Linked DNA regions of Homo sapiens. The protein of the gene in region 2 interacts with the protein of the main gene of each other region in a biochemical or structural test. Each region holds a gene or a part of one and is shown on either strand. Other genes may lie near its edges.

Evidence for each region. Proteins that work in one complex are often made in the same cells at the same time.
Region 1: the proteins of ITIH4 (region 2) and KLK1 form a complex in vitro, tested with the Homo sapiens proteins (one study listed by BioGRID).

What each region holds. Positions count from the first base shown.
Region 1 is NC_000019.10:50,820,788-50,828,114, reverse strand, and holds the start of KLK1 (kallikrein-1 preproprotein), read left to right. Parts: upstream 1-4,327; 5' UTR 4,328-4,366; coding exon 4,367-4,412; intron 4,413-6,243; coding exon 6,244-6,403; intron 6,404-7,327. Other genes in the region: KLK15 (kallikrein-15 isoform 4 preproprotein), read left to right, coding at 300-453, 954-1,237, 1,358-1,494, 2,167-2,319.
Region 2 is NC_000003.12:52,827,661-52,834,629, reverse strand, and holds the start of ITIH4 (inter-alpha-trypsin inhibitor heavy chain H4 isoform 1 precursor), read left to right. Parts: upstream 1-3,957; 5' UTR 3,958-3,987; coding exon 3,988-4,077; intron 4,078-5,350; coding exon 5,351-5,511; intron 5,512-6,969. Other genes in the region: MUSTN1 (musculoskeletal embryonic nuclear protein 1), read left to right, coding at 881-1,013, 1,200-1,306; STIMATE-MUSTN1 (TMEM110-MUSTN1 fusion protein), read left to right, coding at 881-1,013, 1,200-1,306. UniProt on the Homo sapiens protein: Type II acute-phase protein (APP) involved in inflammatory responses to trauma. May also play a role in liver development or regeneration.

The sequences.
Region 1 (7,327 bases), on a different chromosome or scaffold from region 2:
AATTAGCCAGGTGTGGTGGCGGGCACCTCAGCTACTCGGGAGGCTGAGGCAGGAGGATCACTTGAACCCAGGAGGCGGAAGTTGCAGTGAGCTGAGATCATGCCACTGCACTCCAGCCTGGGCAAAAGAGTGAGACTCCGTCTCAAAAACAACAACAACAACAAACAAAAACAGGGCAGGGTGTCTTGAGAAGTTAGGGGAAAGGCATAGGCATATAGTAGTTAGGGCAGGGTGCAAGGAAGGTGTAGGAGGCAATGTAAACGTCCCTGTCCTCAGGCATCCTCTACCCCTTCTCTTAGCAGCCCAGGATGGTGACAAGTTGCTGGAAGGTGACGAGTGTGCACCCCACTCCCAGCCATGGCAAGTGGCTCTCTACGAGCGTGGACGCTTTAACTGTGGCGCTTCCCTCATCTCCCCACACTGGGTGCTGTCTGCGGCCCACTGCCAAAGCCGGTATGAAGGCAGGGGCTCAGGGTCCTGAGGGAGCCTGGTTCGGGGGGAAGAGCTCCTAGATTTGGGGGAAGACGGAGGCAGACGCCAGAACTCCTGGGTTCTGAAAGACGAGGAGGCCGGATGTCAAGCCCCTGGGTTAGGAAGGAGTGTGTGTTTCAAAGCCTTCGATCTCTGAAGGAGGAAGGAGAAGACTAGTTCCAGCTTTTGAGCCTCAGTTCTAGGGATGTGAGAATCCTGGATTCGGGGACAGACCAGGAGGGGGCTGGGAGTAGTTGGAGGGGATCGAGTTCTAGGAGTGTGCCTGACTTCAGACTCGTTGGTCCTTGAGGAGCAGGGGCTGGAACCATTGGCTTCAGGGTCTTGGGAAAAGGTAATGGGATGTCGAGATTTCTAAAGGGTCGGGAGACCTCGGGTTGCCCACTCTTTGATCTTTCTGTCCTCTACTTGCGGGTAACCACTGGCCCGCACTCCACTGGCGGGAAAACCACTCGCCCGCACAGCTTCATGAGAGTGCGCCTGGGAGAGCACAACCTGCGCAAGCGCGATGGCCCAGAGCAACTACGGACCACGTCTCGGGTCATTCCACACCCGCGCTACGAAGCGCGCAGCCACCGCAACGACATCATGTTGCTGCGCCTAGTCCAGCCCGCACGCCTGAACCCCCAGGTGCGCCCCGCGGTGCTACCCACGCGTTGCCCCCACCCGGGGGAGGCCTGTGTGGTGTCTGGCTGGGGCCTGGTGTCCCACAACGAGCCTGGGACCGCTGGGAGCCCCCGGTCACAAGGTGCGTGAAAGGATGGAGCTGGATGCGAGGCCTCAAGGAATCCTATGCTCCAGGGCTCTTGGGCGGAGGGGACAAGGGCCGGAATTTATGGATCTGCTCCAAGTCCACTGTCTTCCCCAGTGAGTCTCCCAGATACGTTGCATTGTGCCAACATCAGCATTATCTCGGACACATCTTGTGACAAGAGCTACCCAGGGCGCCTGACAAACACCATGGTGTGTGCAGGCGCGGAGGGCAGAGGCGCAGAATCCTGTGAGGTCAGAGCCTAGAGGGGCCATCAGGCGGAAGAAGAGGGATGGGGACAGGTGTGGGAGTCCGGATGGGGTTGGATTTTCTTTGCTTTGGGCCAGAGAAGATGCTAGGGTTAGGCTTGGAGATGGAGTAGGAAGAGAAGTTAGAATAGGGGTGAGGTTGGAGTTGGGGTTATAGGTGGGGATTGCGTTGTTTGAGGTGGATAATGTGATAGTTAGTTTGAGATGGCATGGGTTGGGGTTGAGAATGGGAATGGTTTGGTTTGATTCTGGGTGGGAAATACGTCAGGGTTGAATTGGGATGAGGTAGATTTTGTTTGGAATGCAGAAGACATGAAGATTGAGATTGGATTTTGAGATGGGCATGGGTTTGATTTGATTTTGAATGGTGAGGATGTGGGCTGAGTTGGATTTAACTTAGTACAGTTGCACTGGAGTTGCATGGGGGTGAGATTGGATATAGGTTGGGTGAGTTGTATTGAGCTGTGTTGAATTGGGGTTGGGGTTGGGGTTGGGTTGGCTCTGTTTGGGATAAACTGGGCTGTATTGAGTTGAGTTGGGTTGGGGTTCCCTGGGATGGGGATGGATTGGGTTTGGGGTGAGATTGCAAATGGTGATTAGGATGAGGATGAATCCAGGAGGTTTCACTCAACCTGAGACCCCCTCTTTTCCCCACAGGGTGACTCTGGGGGACCCCTGGTCTGTGGGGGCATCCTGCAGGGCATTGTGTCCTGGGGTGACGTCCCTTGTGACAACACCACCAAGCCTGGTGTCTATACCAAAGTCTGCCACTACTTGGAGTGGATCAGGGAAACCATGAAGAGGAACTGACTATTCTAGCCTATCTCCTGTGCCCCTGACTGAGCAGAAGCCCCCACAGCTGGCCAGCAGCCCCGCCTGACATGGAACAGAACGGAGCCATCCCCCAAGACCCTGTCCAAGGCCCAGATGTTAGCCAAGGACTTGTCCCACCTGAGGACAAAGCTGGCGCTCAAGGTCACCTGTTTAATGCCAAGATAACAAAGCGCTGATCCAAGTTGCTCTGTAGGAATTTCTGTGACTTTTTTCTGGGGTCAAAGAGAAACCCCGAGACACTGTACACTGTTCCTTTTCACCCACCACCCCGATCCCTAGGTGAGGAGAAGCGGCTTGAAGCAGGGCTCCATTCATTCAACACACATGACCACCCGTGTGATCTTGAACAAGAGGCCCAATCTCACTTCGCCTTGGTTTCCTTATCTGTAAAATGAGACCATCTTATTGCTGACTTCAAAGGGCTGTTGTGAGGATTAAATGAGATGATTCGTCTGAACTGATTAAAATCGTGTCTGGCACTGAGTAAATACCCTCTATCTCTGGATCCCAGTTAAAGGACCTAACAGACACTAGATTACCAAGAATGGCTTTTTCTTTAAGGTTTAGTTCTGGGCCGGGCATGGTGGCTCACACCTGTAATCCCAGCACTTTGGGAGGCCAAGGCGGGCGGCTCACTTGAGGTCAGGAGTGCAAGACCAGCCTGGCCAACATGGTGAAACCCCATCTCTACTAAAAATACTAAAAAAATTTAGCCGGGCGTGGTGGCACACGACTGTAATCCTAGCTACTTGGGAGGGTGATGTGGGAGGATCGCTTGAACTTAGGAGGCAGGAGTTGCAGTGAGCCGAGATCGCGCCACTGCACTCCAGCCTGGTGACAGAGCAAGACTCCATCTCAGAAAAAAAAAAAAAAAAAAAAAGATTTAGTTCTGGGCTTCCTGGTAGCCATGGCAAAAAGGCAAATACTGTCCTTTCCTTAGCCAGGTCCCTGATATACAGCAGAGGCTGGAACTCTGAGCTGCTTTGATTTTACCAAAAAGCCAAGACAACCTGTTGGAAGCCTATGGGTTTACCATTGAGGCTGCAGGAATCTAGTTCCTAATTATCTTCAGAGACCACAAAATGTGATGTTCAAGGTCGCTGAATGTTGAAGTACATGAACCTGGCTCGTGAGACCTAAATATTGTACTGGTGGTGGGGGGGAAGGGTCATTGGAATCTGTGGTTAGCCTGATCTTGACCTGGGAGGGAAGGTTGTCCAGATCTCTGGGACTTTGGAGGACAGGACGTTGAGCACCCATAACTGGGAGCAAGAAGTGGGAGGCTCATTGAGACCCCAGCATTGTTTGGGAGGGACACTGGATTTTGTAATGCTAAAGAACTTACCCTGGGAGACCCCTGAAACTTCACATTCCTGGATCTGGAGGCACTAGGAATGTGGTGATGTGTACCCCAAAATTTTATTATGAAAGGAACAGTAGCTTTGGGGACCTAGGTCCTGGGTCTGGGAGTGCAAGAACCAGGGCATTCTGAAGGCCAAGGCTTATATTTCAGGGGGAACTGGCAGCTGAGATGCTAGTATCTTGGCTCCGAGTGGTGCAGGGAATCAGAGCCCTAACTGCTGGTGTTTGAGGGCACCAGGTCTGGGGGTGCAGGGCCTTAATTGAGACTGAGGTATATGGGGCTTTGTACCAGGGGTCACTGATTCCTCCGTCTTCCTGTTTCTGCTTCCCCTCAGTCCCCCCTTGCCTCACTGGCTGCTCCCCAGAGCAAAGCCCCAGAGCCACAGGCCCTGCCCCACCTGGCTTCAACCCCAGGAATGCGTCCAGCGTGATCCAGGGCCTGCAGAACAGGTGCTGGTTCTCCCTCCCCGTCTACAGCTCTGGGGATCGGAGGGGGGGGGGGCAATTGTCCAGCCCCCAGGCAACAGGGGAAGGGCCTTGGCCAACATCTGGGTGCCAGCAGGGCAGGGGTGGGGCTCTGAGGGGATAAGGGCTTTTAAAAGCCTCCCCAGGGAGGTTCCCCAGTTCCTCCACCTGCTGGCCCCTGGACACCTCTGTCACCATGTGGTTCCTGGTTCTGTGCCTCGCCCTGTCCCTGGGGGGGACTGGTGAGACAGTGGGGGGATGTGGGAGGGGGAACGGGCCCTGATTCTCTTGCTGGCCTCACATCCCCCCCCGATAAGACCTTCCCCTCCAACACCCCACCCTCATCCCTCTGGCCCACAGTCTATCCTAGTCCGGGGTGCCCCGGCTCTTATCTATCTTGCGCGGCCCCACCCTAAACTTCCACCCCCGCTCCTCCATGTTGTCATAGTGCTCACTCCCACACCAGATTCCTGCTCCTCCCAGGAAGCCTCAGTACTTTCTCCTCTTCCCTAGCCAACGCCCTGTCCCACCGCTTTACCAAAGGGGCAGATTCTGGGCCATCTCTGTCTCTCTCTGGAGGACCCCAACCCTCCCATGGGCTTCCCCCACCCCACAGGACTCTGATCATCCCCTCCTGCCCCCTAGTTCCCTGCGGCCACCTATTTGGCTCCTGAGTCTACAAATCCCACCACACTCCAGTGACTTTTTCCATCCAGCTGTCCGCTCTCAACTGTGTCCTCCAGACCCTGACATCTGGTCTCCCCAGTCCTTCCAGGGTCCCCCAAATTTCACCAGAAAACCCTGCTTCCCAAACTGGCATGTGGGATCCCCCATCTGGTATGGGGGGGGGTCTGCAAATGTCCCTTCCCACCCAGCACCCCCAGCTCTCCCAGGAAAAACACCACACCCTCCCACCACATGCTCCTTTCCTTGGGGAAGTTCCATCCCGCCCCAGGCCCCAGCCCTTCTCTGCCTGAATTGTTCCTACACAGCTCTGGTTTTCTGGAACCCCACCCCAAGGATCCTGAATGCCTTCTCAGCCAGCGCTTCTGCCCTGGCCTCCCCCAAGTCAGTATGTGATTCTACAACCTCACGTCAAGTGGGTCCTGCATTGCATTCCCACAGCTGCTTGGCGCCTGTTCTCACCACTTCTCCAATCCTCTTCCTAGGATTGCCTCCAAGAGGACCCCATATCCTTCCAGTACCCTCAGACCATGAACCCCATCCCCATGAGAAACGAAGATCCCATCCTTCACCCTGTCCGAGAAGGACTGCCACTCACGCCTCCCTCCTCCTGAGCCCCGTCCCAGTCCTGACCGCAACTGTGTTCTCAGGGCCCCAACCTCCCCTCAGATTGCCATTCCTGGTTCACAGGAAGGACCCCAAAACCTCTCGGAAGCCCACCTCTAGCCTTAACCATAGCCCTTTCTTTTACCCTTTAACCAGGAAGCCCTGAAATCTAACTGTCCCAGCCAAGCTGGCCCCTTCCAACCCCAATGTAGGGACCCCAAGTCACCCCCAAACTCTTCAGTCCAGATGCTCTTCTTTACCTCTCAGACCTGGTTCCCTAAAGCTGCATCCTTTCCTGAACCTCAAAAGCCCAACCCAGGTCCTGTTTCCCTAGCCTAGGAGCCCCTTAGCCCTCCAGATTCTTCCTCAGTGAGCCTCTGATCCTGTCCCACCCTTGGCGCCTTGATCCCTGGTTTCCAGAATCCCTTTCCACTCCCCTAACCCACCACCTCCCATCCCCCAGCCCCAGACCCCAAATGACCTGACGCCCAGATGCAGTGTCTGCTCCAGACACTGTCTCCTGTCTCCTACCCTGATCCCTGGAGGCTGCTCTACTGTCAGAGCACAAAATCTCCCCACCAGGTCCAGCCACCACTCCAAAAGCCCAGGGAACAGTCCAGAGTCCCACCCCTTCCCAACACCCCTTGCCCATGTCCCCAACCTCCAGCCCTGGTCCTCTACCCGCAATGTCCCTTCAGACCCACAGCCCAGCTCCCTCTCCTAGCCTTGTCCCTGGCCTCTCCTGCCAACCCTGCCCTTCCTGACCCAGCACCGCCTCTGCAGGTGCTGCGCCCCCGATTCAGTCCCGGATTGTGGGAGGCTGGGAGTGTGAGCAGCATTCCCAGCCCTGGCAGGCGGCTCTGTACCATTTCAGCACTTTCCAGTGTGGGGGCATCCTGGTGCACCGCCAGTGGGTGCTCACAGCTGCTCATTGCATCAGCGAGTGAGTAGGGGCCTGGGGTCTGGGAGGAGGGCATCTATGCTGCCACAGGATTGACAGGCCAGTGGCATTCCCCTTGGATAACCTCAGGCAAGACTGGGGGGCTGAGGCAGAGAGGAAGGCTCTGGCGCAGGTCGCCTGGCAGGGCAGAGCTGGGCTGGACACCCCTCTCCAAGGCTGCCTGGGTCTCTTGGGATCTGGTTCTGCTTGTGTCTCTGTGTGACTGTGTTCTGGTCTCTGTCTTCCTCTCTCTCCTCTGTCTCCTTGTCTCTGCATCTCCCCTGTCTCTGTCTGTCTCTGAGTCTCTCTGCGGCATCTCTGTCACTGTGTCTCACCCTCCATCTCTCTACCCATCTCTCTCTCTCTGGGTCTCTACCTCACCGCTCCCTCATCCCTACTAAACACACACCCAGATGGACCTAAGGGAGGCCCCAGAGTAAAGGAAGGGCTTTATCCCCAACTTGTGTGCCTGGGAGGGGGCGCCTCTCCCTCTGTCCAGCTCCCCGCCCCACAGGATATCCCTCCACTCTGGAGAGACACAGGGAAGGGCTGGTTTCAGCGGGAGCTGGGTGGGGCAACTGAGGGAGGAGGAAGGAGGAGGCGGGGCGAGAAACGCGCGGGAGGGTGCTGGGAAGGGAAGGGGGCCTCGACCTTGGACTTCAGGCCAGGCCACCTGCCCCTGGGGAGCCCGCACCACAGCCCCAGCTGCAGCTGAGCCGCTCTCAGGCCTCCCCTCCTCCCTACCTGCCCCCACCCTCCCCACCTGCCCCCACCCTCCCCCAGGGCCTCCCTCCCTTTTCTCTCCCACACTCGGTCACTCCTGCTTCCTCTCTGCCTCTGTTTCTAGTTCTCACTCTGACGTCCCGCGTCCTTTTTCATTTGTCTGCTTCTCGCTCCCTTCCGTGTTCTGTTCCCTCTTCCTCCCTC
Region 2 (6,969 bases):
TAGCTCAGTGTGTAGAGCTTTGTGCATTTGTAGCTATGGGCCCGGCAGCCATGCACTCTGTGTGTGGCCACACACATAGGTCTGTCTGTCTCTGTGTATGGTATATGCATGAAGCTGTATGTGTGTGCACATGAGGCTGGAGGGACACAGCTGGATGCATCGCTGTACAGGGGTATAGTGTGTTGCTCTGAGGAGCCTGGCCCAGGCTGAGCGAGGAAATACCTGCACCTGCACCCAAGCACAGGCAGGTCTCAGACTCACAGGCGCCTGGGGTTGAGGGGTAGGGTAAACACCGAGCCTGGGTGTCCCCCACCCTGGAGGGACAGACCAGCCTGCCAAGAGAGAGGACTGTCCTTGCTGCCTGCTCTGTGGGTGGGTGGCCATTTTGGACTGTAATTCTGTGGGCATCTGGCCCTTCTACCCCATTTCCAGCCCCAAAGACACAAAGTAAATAGTGGCGCTTTTCTGGAAGGGGGCAATCCTTGAGGAACCGCTTGCCACCCAGTGAACAGGTTTTGGAACTAACCAAATTCCCTAGTATTGCCCAACCTCAGAGCTAGTCCCCTTCGCTGTTCCCCACTGTGCCCAGTCCTGAGCTTGACCAGGTAGCCAGACACGCCAGTGTGAGGCTGCAGCAGCCACTGCTCCCAAGAGCTCCCAGGCTATAGGGGAAAGGCACATGGGCAAGTCAGACCAAGACAGCTGGGAGACCTGCAGCAGGTGGAGTATAGTTGGGAAGGCTTTCTCTGGAAGAGGAGTAGAGCCTTGAATAGGCTTGGGTTTAATGAGCAGAGAAGAGGGGTCTTGGCCAAGGCACAGAGGTAGGTGTGCCTTTCTACCGAGGCTTCAGGTAGTAAGATGAGGCTCTTGGATCTCCAAGGCTGGTGCTCAGGAAGCCCCTATCAAGAAGAAGCGCCCCCCTGTGAAGGACGAGGACCTGAAGGGGGCCCGAGGAAACCTGACCAAGAACCAGGAAATCAAGTCCAAGACCTACCAGGTCATGCGAGAGTGTGGTGAGTGTCCTCATGCCATCTGGGGCTGGGGATGGGGGTGCAGGTGTGTGTCAGTGGTGGGGGGAGGTGGTCAAGGATCCTTTTCTGAGAATCCAGTATTCCTGGGTTCAAGAAAGGTGCTCCCATCGTAAGGGATCTTCCCTCCCAGGAAGCTAGGCTGGCCCCTGACTTTACCTCCTCCCACAGAGCAAGCTGGCTCGGCCGCCCCGTCGGTGTTCAGCCGCACCCGCACAGGTACCGAGACTGTCTTTGAGAAGCCCAAAGCCGGACCCACCAAGAGTGTCTTCGGCTGAGAAGTGTGCGCCACTCCCCTTGCTGCCCGAATGCTCGGAAACAGGAGCCTTTCCCAGGAACTCTTTTTTATGCCAGAACGCTTCCTCTCCCCTGCTGTCTCTGGGGCTGCCACCCTCCCCCACAGTCCAGGCCCTTCAGCCAAGGGCTCTGCACCAGCACCTTGGAAGCACCAATAAAGAGGATGCCCACGTGGCCCCAGCAATCAGAAGGTGTTGGTTGGTCCCTGGCTATGGCCACTATTGAGAGGGAGGACAGGGTGGGAACATGGAACATGTCCGTTTAAGAGGATCCCAGGGGATAGCACAGGTGCTATTATGGGCACTGCCACATGCTGCCTTGGACATGGAGACTCAGTGCTGACCTGTGACTTCAGACTTTTCTGAGCCTCAGTTTCCCCTTTTATACTACAGGGGAGTTGAGCTGGAGTCTATTCCATAAAGCAGGCCATGATGACACTGCTCAGAGTGAAGTGGGTGGGGTCTCAGGGACCACCTCTCCTCCTGCCTTCCACAGAAGCTGCTGAGAAGCCTCTGAGGACCTGCAGGCTCTGCAGCACCTAGGGACCTCAAAAACCCCTCTCCCTGCACTGCACTAGGGACCTCAAAACCCCTCTCCCTGCACTGCACTAGGGACCTCAAAACCCCTCTCCCTGCACTGCACTAGGGACCTCAAAACCCCTCTCCCTCCCTACACTTTTGTTCACACTGCCTCCTCCCGGCTTTTGTCCCCTCCAAGTCAGAGCCAGATTGAGATTCCTCTCTGGCAGTCAGTTTCCTGAGCTACCGTCTCTTCCAAACAGCAGGGGTAAGACTCCCACATTCTGCTCCAACCATGCTGTCTGGGGCATGGAACACCAGATTCTCAGCCTGCATGACCCTTCTCTCTCCAGTCCTCTGTCCCCTGTGTGCCTGGAAGTGCCAGGTTCAAAAGACCCATAGAGGCCTGTCCCGTTGTGATGGCAAGACCATGACCATGGACAGGCTGACAGTGGCTCTTTTCGGAGCTGGACTGGCAGAGCCTGGGCTTGTGGTGCCTGGCTCGGGGCTGATGCCTGCTGGGGATGCCTTCCTGTCCCAGGAGGTTCTGGCTGCCCAGAACGTTTCCCACAGTCCCGGCCAGCCTGGCCACCTTATATAGCCCTGAGTCCGGGCTGGGCCTGTGCTCTCTGCCCCAAGGGAGCAGCCCTGCTGTGAGGAAGGGCCCAGTCCTACTTGCTGGACTCCATGGGGAGACTCTTCCCCCAGACACTGAAAGGAGCGTGTTCCCCTGTGTAATCCCAATCGTATCCAGAGCCAAAAGGGTGAGCAGTGGAGACGTGCGCAGAGATGAGGCTTCTGGCCAGTCATGCTAAGGAAGGGGAACGTCTTCCTTGCAGCTGTAGAAATAGCTCCAGTCTATGGCACCTTTGCCCCAGGCCTGCCGCCACCTCTAATGGAGACAGGACTGGTGGAGAAACCCTCCCCAGCCTCTGGAAGCCACTGGCTGCCCCAAGGCCCCCGATAGGTTCCCAAGGCAGCTGGCCCCCTCAGGGCTGGTGTCACGGAGCCGCCGTCCTTCCCTGATCCAGGACTTGGCATCTGGCCACACTTTTATGACTCATCTTTACCCATCTGTGGCCACAGACTCAGGAGCTGGCTTCCCCAGAGCCACCAGGGAACACGAGCCCCAGCGGTGCCCAGAGCGCATAATATGTACTCACTCGATCCCACTTTACAAGGAGCAGAGCGCTTCAACTTTAGCAAGGCCGGGACCCACCCCAGGCCTTTGGGCAGCGCTCCCCTGGGTCTGGGCTGTGGCAGCATCACACTGCTCATGACAACAGCATTCTGCCCTCTCTCAACCAGCGATTCCTGGGCTCCCTCTGCTCCACCAAATGACTCCCCAGTCACCCCTCAGGAGCTGCTGGCACTGTCAGGTCTGTCTTCTGTTCCATGCTCTTCTGTCAATAAACTCCCCGCATGGAGACCTCTGTGCCACAGGATGTGGCAGGTTTATGACTCAGTTGTATTGCCATTCTTGTTTTGGGGGCCTTGCTGGGGTTGAACCTAAAGCCCTGGCTAGATTAATGGCACCCAAACAGCAACCTGGGACCCCAGGAGAGAGAAGGAGGCGCCCCGTGCCCAGCACCTCTCACTTCAGAAATACGGCGTATCTATCCTGACTCTAGATCTGCCCCACACAGACACCTCCCAGAGTCACTCCATGCCTTTGGGCCCTCCCATCAGCCAGACACACTTACCTGGTGGCCAAGCCCCCTTCTTCCGGGAAGCCGCTAGGGTAGCCCTGTAGCCCTAGTCTTCCCCACCATCCCCCGCTGTTTCTCCCCGGGCTGGACTTAGGGAGAGCAGACTGACATCTTCACTGTCAATTCCCTCCCAGCCCTGTGGAGCTTGGTGGAATGCCTGGTGTGAAGGGTCCTGGTGAAGGTTTCGCACTTTTCAGAAGGGGCATGTACCCCCACTCCAAACTGAGCCTACCTTTCTTTGGTATACATTCCTGCCCCCAGCCAAGGTCCATGGGACGTTCGTCATTTGCTTATCTGAGGTCACTGTGGTTTTTGGCTTGTAGATCCCAATTTCCCAGAACCTGCCCCCATGTGGGTGGGGCAGCAAACAAGTTACTAATCCATTCCCCACTTGCTGTCGAGTTCAGAAGCCTCCTGGCAGACACTGGAGCCACGATGAAGCCCCCAAGGCCTGTCCGTACCTGCAGCAAAGTTCTCGTCCTGCTTTCACTGCTGGCCATCCACCAGACTACTACTGCCGAAAAGGTAGCCAGTGTCCATGGGTGTGGCGTGAGCTGGGGGATGAGAGAACGCCTGGGAAGTGGGGAAGAGCCTCCGCATGTGCCAGCGTGTCAGCACAAGTGCGTGTGCATCCCTGTGTGTGCAAAAAAATGGTGCAGACCTCCCGCCAGGCACTACCCCAAGGGCCTTACTGGTATTCTCCCACCTAATAGAGGGGATGATCCAATCATTTCCATTTTCCAAATGAGGAAATACAGTTTTACAAGCCTGGCTCTACCGCCTTTTAGTAAGTGACCTCAGGAGAATGATTTATGCTGACTATGTCTCAATTTCCTCATCTGTAAAACAGGGTAATACTAGAACCTATTCAGAGGGTGGCGGTTGTGAAAACCAAACCCATTGTATCTATAAAGTGCTTAGGACAGTGCTTGTTGTGAAAACCAAACCCATTGTATCTATGAAGTGCTTAGGACAGTGCTTGTCGCAGAGCAAATACCCAAGCACATAAACAAGCCACTTGGCACCTCTGTGCCAAACTGCATTCAGGCAGCCGCATGCAGCCGAGCAGAGTTGGTGCAGTGCGCATGAGCATGTCACACACAAGCAGGTAAGAGGTGCCCGTGTGCCCCTCCTCGGGGGACACAGACCTCAAGGCAAATGGCACCTGCTAGGGGAGTGCCCTGCGGAAGTGGGGATGAGTTGGGGAGGGTCCACTGCGGAGCAGAGAGGAAGATTCCCAACTCTCAGAGACCAGACTCTAGTCTACCTCCGAATTCTCCCAGCTCTGAGGGCTTCCTTCTAGGAGACTGGTGGGAGCTTCCCTGTTGCCACAGAGGCCAAAGTCTCCAGAAATCAAAGGACCTGGTCACTGCCCTTTTTCTGGGCAAAGCTAAGCCAGCATGCAAAGCTCCCTGACCCCACCAGGTCTCTCACCCCTGCCCAAAGGCTGAGTGTGATGCCCCTCCCAGACACTGGCCCTGGCTTCACCAGCTCCACCCCCTGCATGCTTGTTCTTCTCCAAGGGGTGCTCTGGGCCCCTATAGATCAAGAAGGACGTGGCCCCTGCCCTGTGGTGCTGTAGGGTGGGGAATGAAGCACACTGCTATCTCTTACCTGAGACAAATGTTCACATATGAGATGCCTCACTGGGTTCAGCCTGAGGCCTGGTCAGTGGCTCAGTCAGATTGGGAGCCAGGGTTTGGTCTAGAGCCAGAGTCAGGGCCAACTCTTGAAGAGCGTCACCCCGAGCTGAGGTGGCATTGAAACCCTGCAACCCCCTTCTTCTTTGCTGGTCCAGAATGGCATCGACATCTACAGCCTCACCGTGGACTCCAGGGTCTCATCCCGATTTGCCCACACGGTCGTCACCAGCCGAGTGGTCAATAGGGCCAATACTGTGCAGGAGGCCACCTTCCAGATGGAGCTGCCCAAGAAAGCCTTCATCACCAACTTCTCCATGTAGGTGCCTTCCCACCCTCCTCCCCTCTCCACACCCCCCAGTGCTATGACTCCATCGCTCTGTGCCAGCAAACCCTCTTCTTGAAGTAAGGCATGCCAGGGTGTACATCTTCAGGAGTACACCCTGCACCTGGGGCCACACAGGAACAGGGGCTTGCCAAAGGACTTATTCTCAAAGATGCCCCCGTCCTTCCCTCCATCCAGCCATTCATCATCCCTAAGTGCTGTCCAGGTGTTAGGCAGAGAACCACAGAATCTTTGTGACTTTGCCTTTGAGGAGCACAGACTTGAGGCCTCCTGAGGCCAGACCAGGCAAGAGGGAGTCACCAAAATGCACATTCCAGCTCAAAGTACAGAAAACCTTCTAGACCCTTGGCTTCCTCACAGTGGAGAGTGGCTTGAGGAGGATTCTCCTAGGTCTGCCCCAGCTGGGATCCTGCAGAGGACATTTTTGCTCAGGCTGCGTGAGAGATGCCTGAGGTTTCTCTGAATTCTATGAGCCAAGGATGGTCCTCACTTTGTCCTCTGCCACCCTCCCCTACCCTTCCCAACTCAGTTTCCAATGTTTACTAAATGCACCAGGATGCCGCCTGTCCCTTGCTGCCAGGAAAAGCTGTGATTTAGGACAAGGGCAAGACTCTTCCCAGAAACAGGGCGATGGTGGGGCAGAGAGGGAGTGTCTCATGTGGGGTCCCACACTGTGGCCTCTGGAAAACTGCAGTGGGGGCTAGTCTCCTCCCTCAGGCGCCAAGCATCCCCCACTCCACCGCAGCCTCTACTTTTCCTAACCCAGAGCCCGGGCCTATGCTGCCCAGCTTGCAGTGCAAGCCCCACGGGCTGTGTCAGCCTTCGACATGGGTGCCAGGGTCAGCAGTTGCCAGGTCCAGGCCCGTGGCATCTGCTGAGAGCCCAAGACTGTCACTTGCCTTCTCTAGACCCAGAACCTGTTGCTGCATGAGTTAGGGGAGCAGAGAGCAGGTTCCCTGCTCCCTGACCTGGCCAGGAGCCCCAGCTGGCCATCTGGAGAGATGAAGCACTGCCTACCCAGGGGGAGGAGTGCCACTGCCCACTCACCAGCCCCATCCCGGGCTAGAGTTAAATTATAACCAGGAAGGTCAGGCAGGAGGGACGCGTAGTCCTGACATCCTGGCTGCTCCCCCTCCTGCCCACTGCCACACACTACCACATGAAGTTGACCAGGCACATCCCTACACACCCCACAAGGAGGCTCTGAAAAAGTCGTTTTCCTCCCTGAGAAATGGCCTGGGCCATTCTTTCTCAGCCCCCAAAGGATGGCTGCTAGGAGTGTGTCCACACACCCAGGAGTCCCGTCCACCAGTTGTCCAAAACCTCCTTCCAGATATGCCAGCCTCCCTATAGGGTGCCTGCCTCTTGTGGGAGGGAGCGGGGAGACTGCTGTAGGGGGAAAGTGCTCAGAGCCTCCAGCCCTACGTCTGC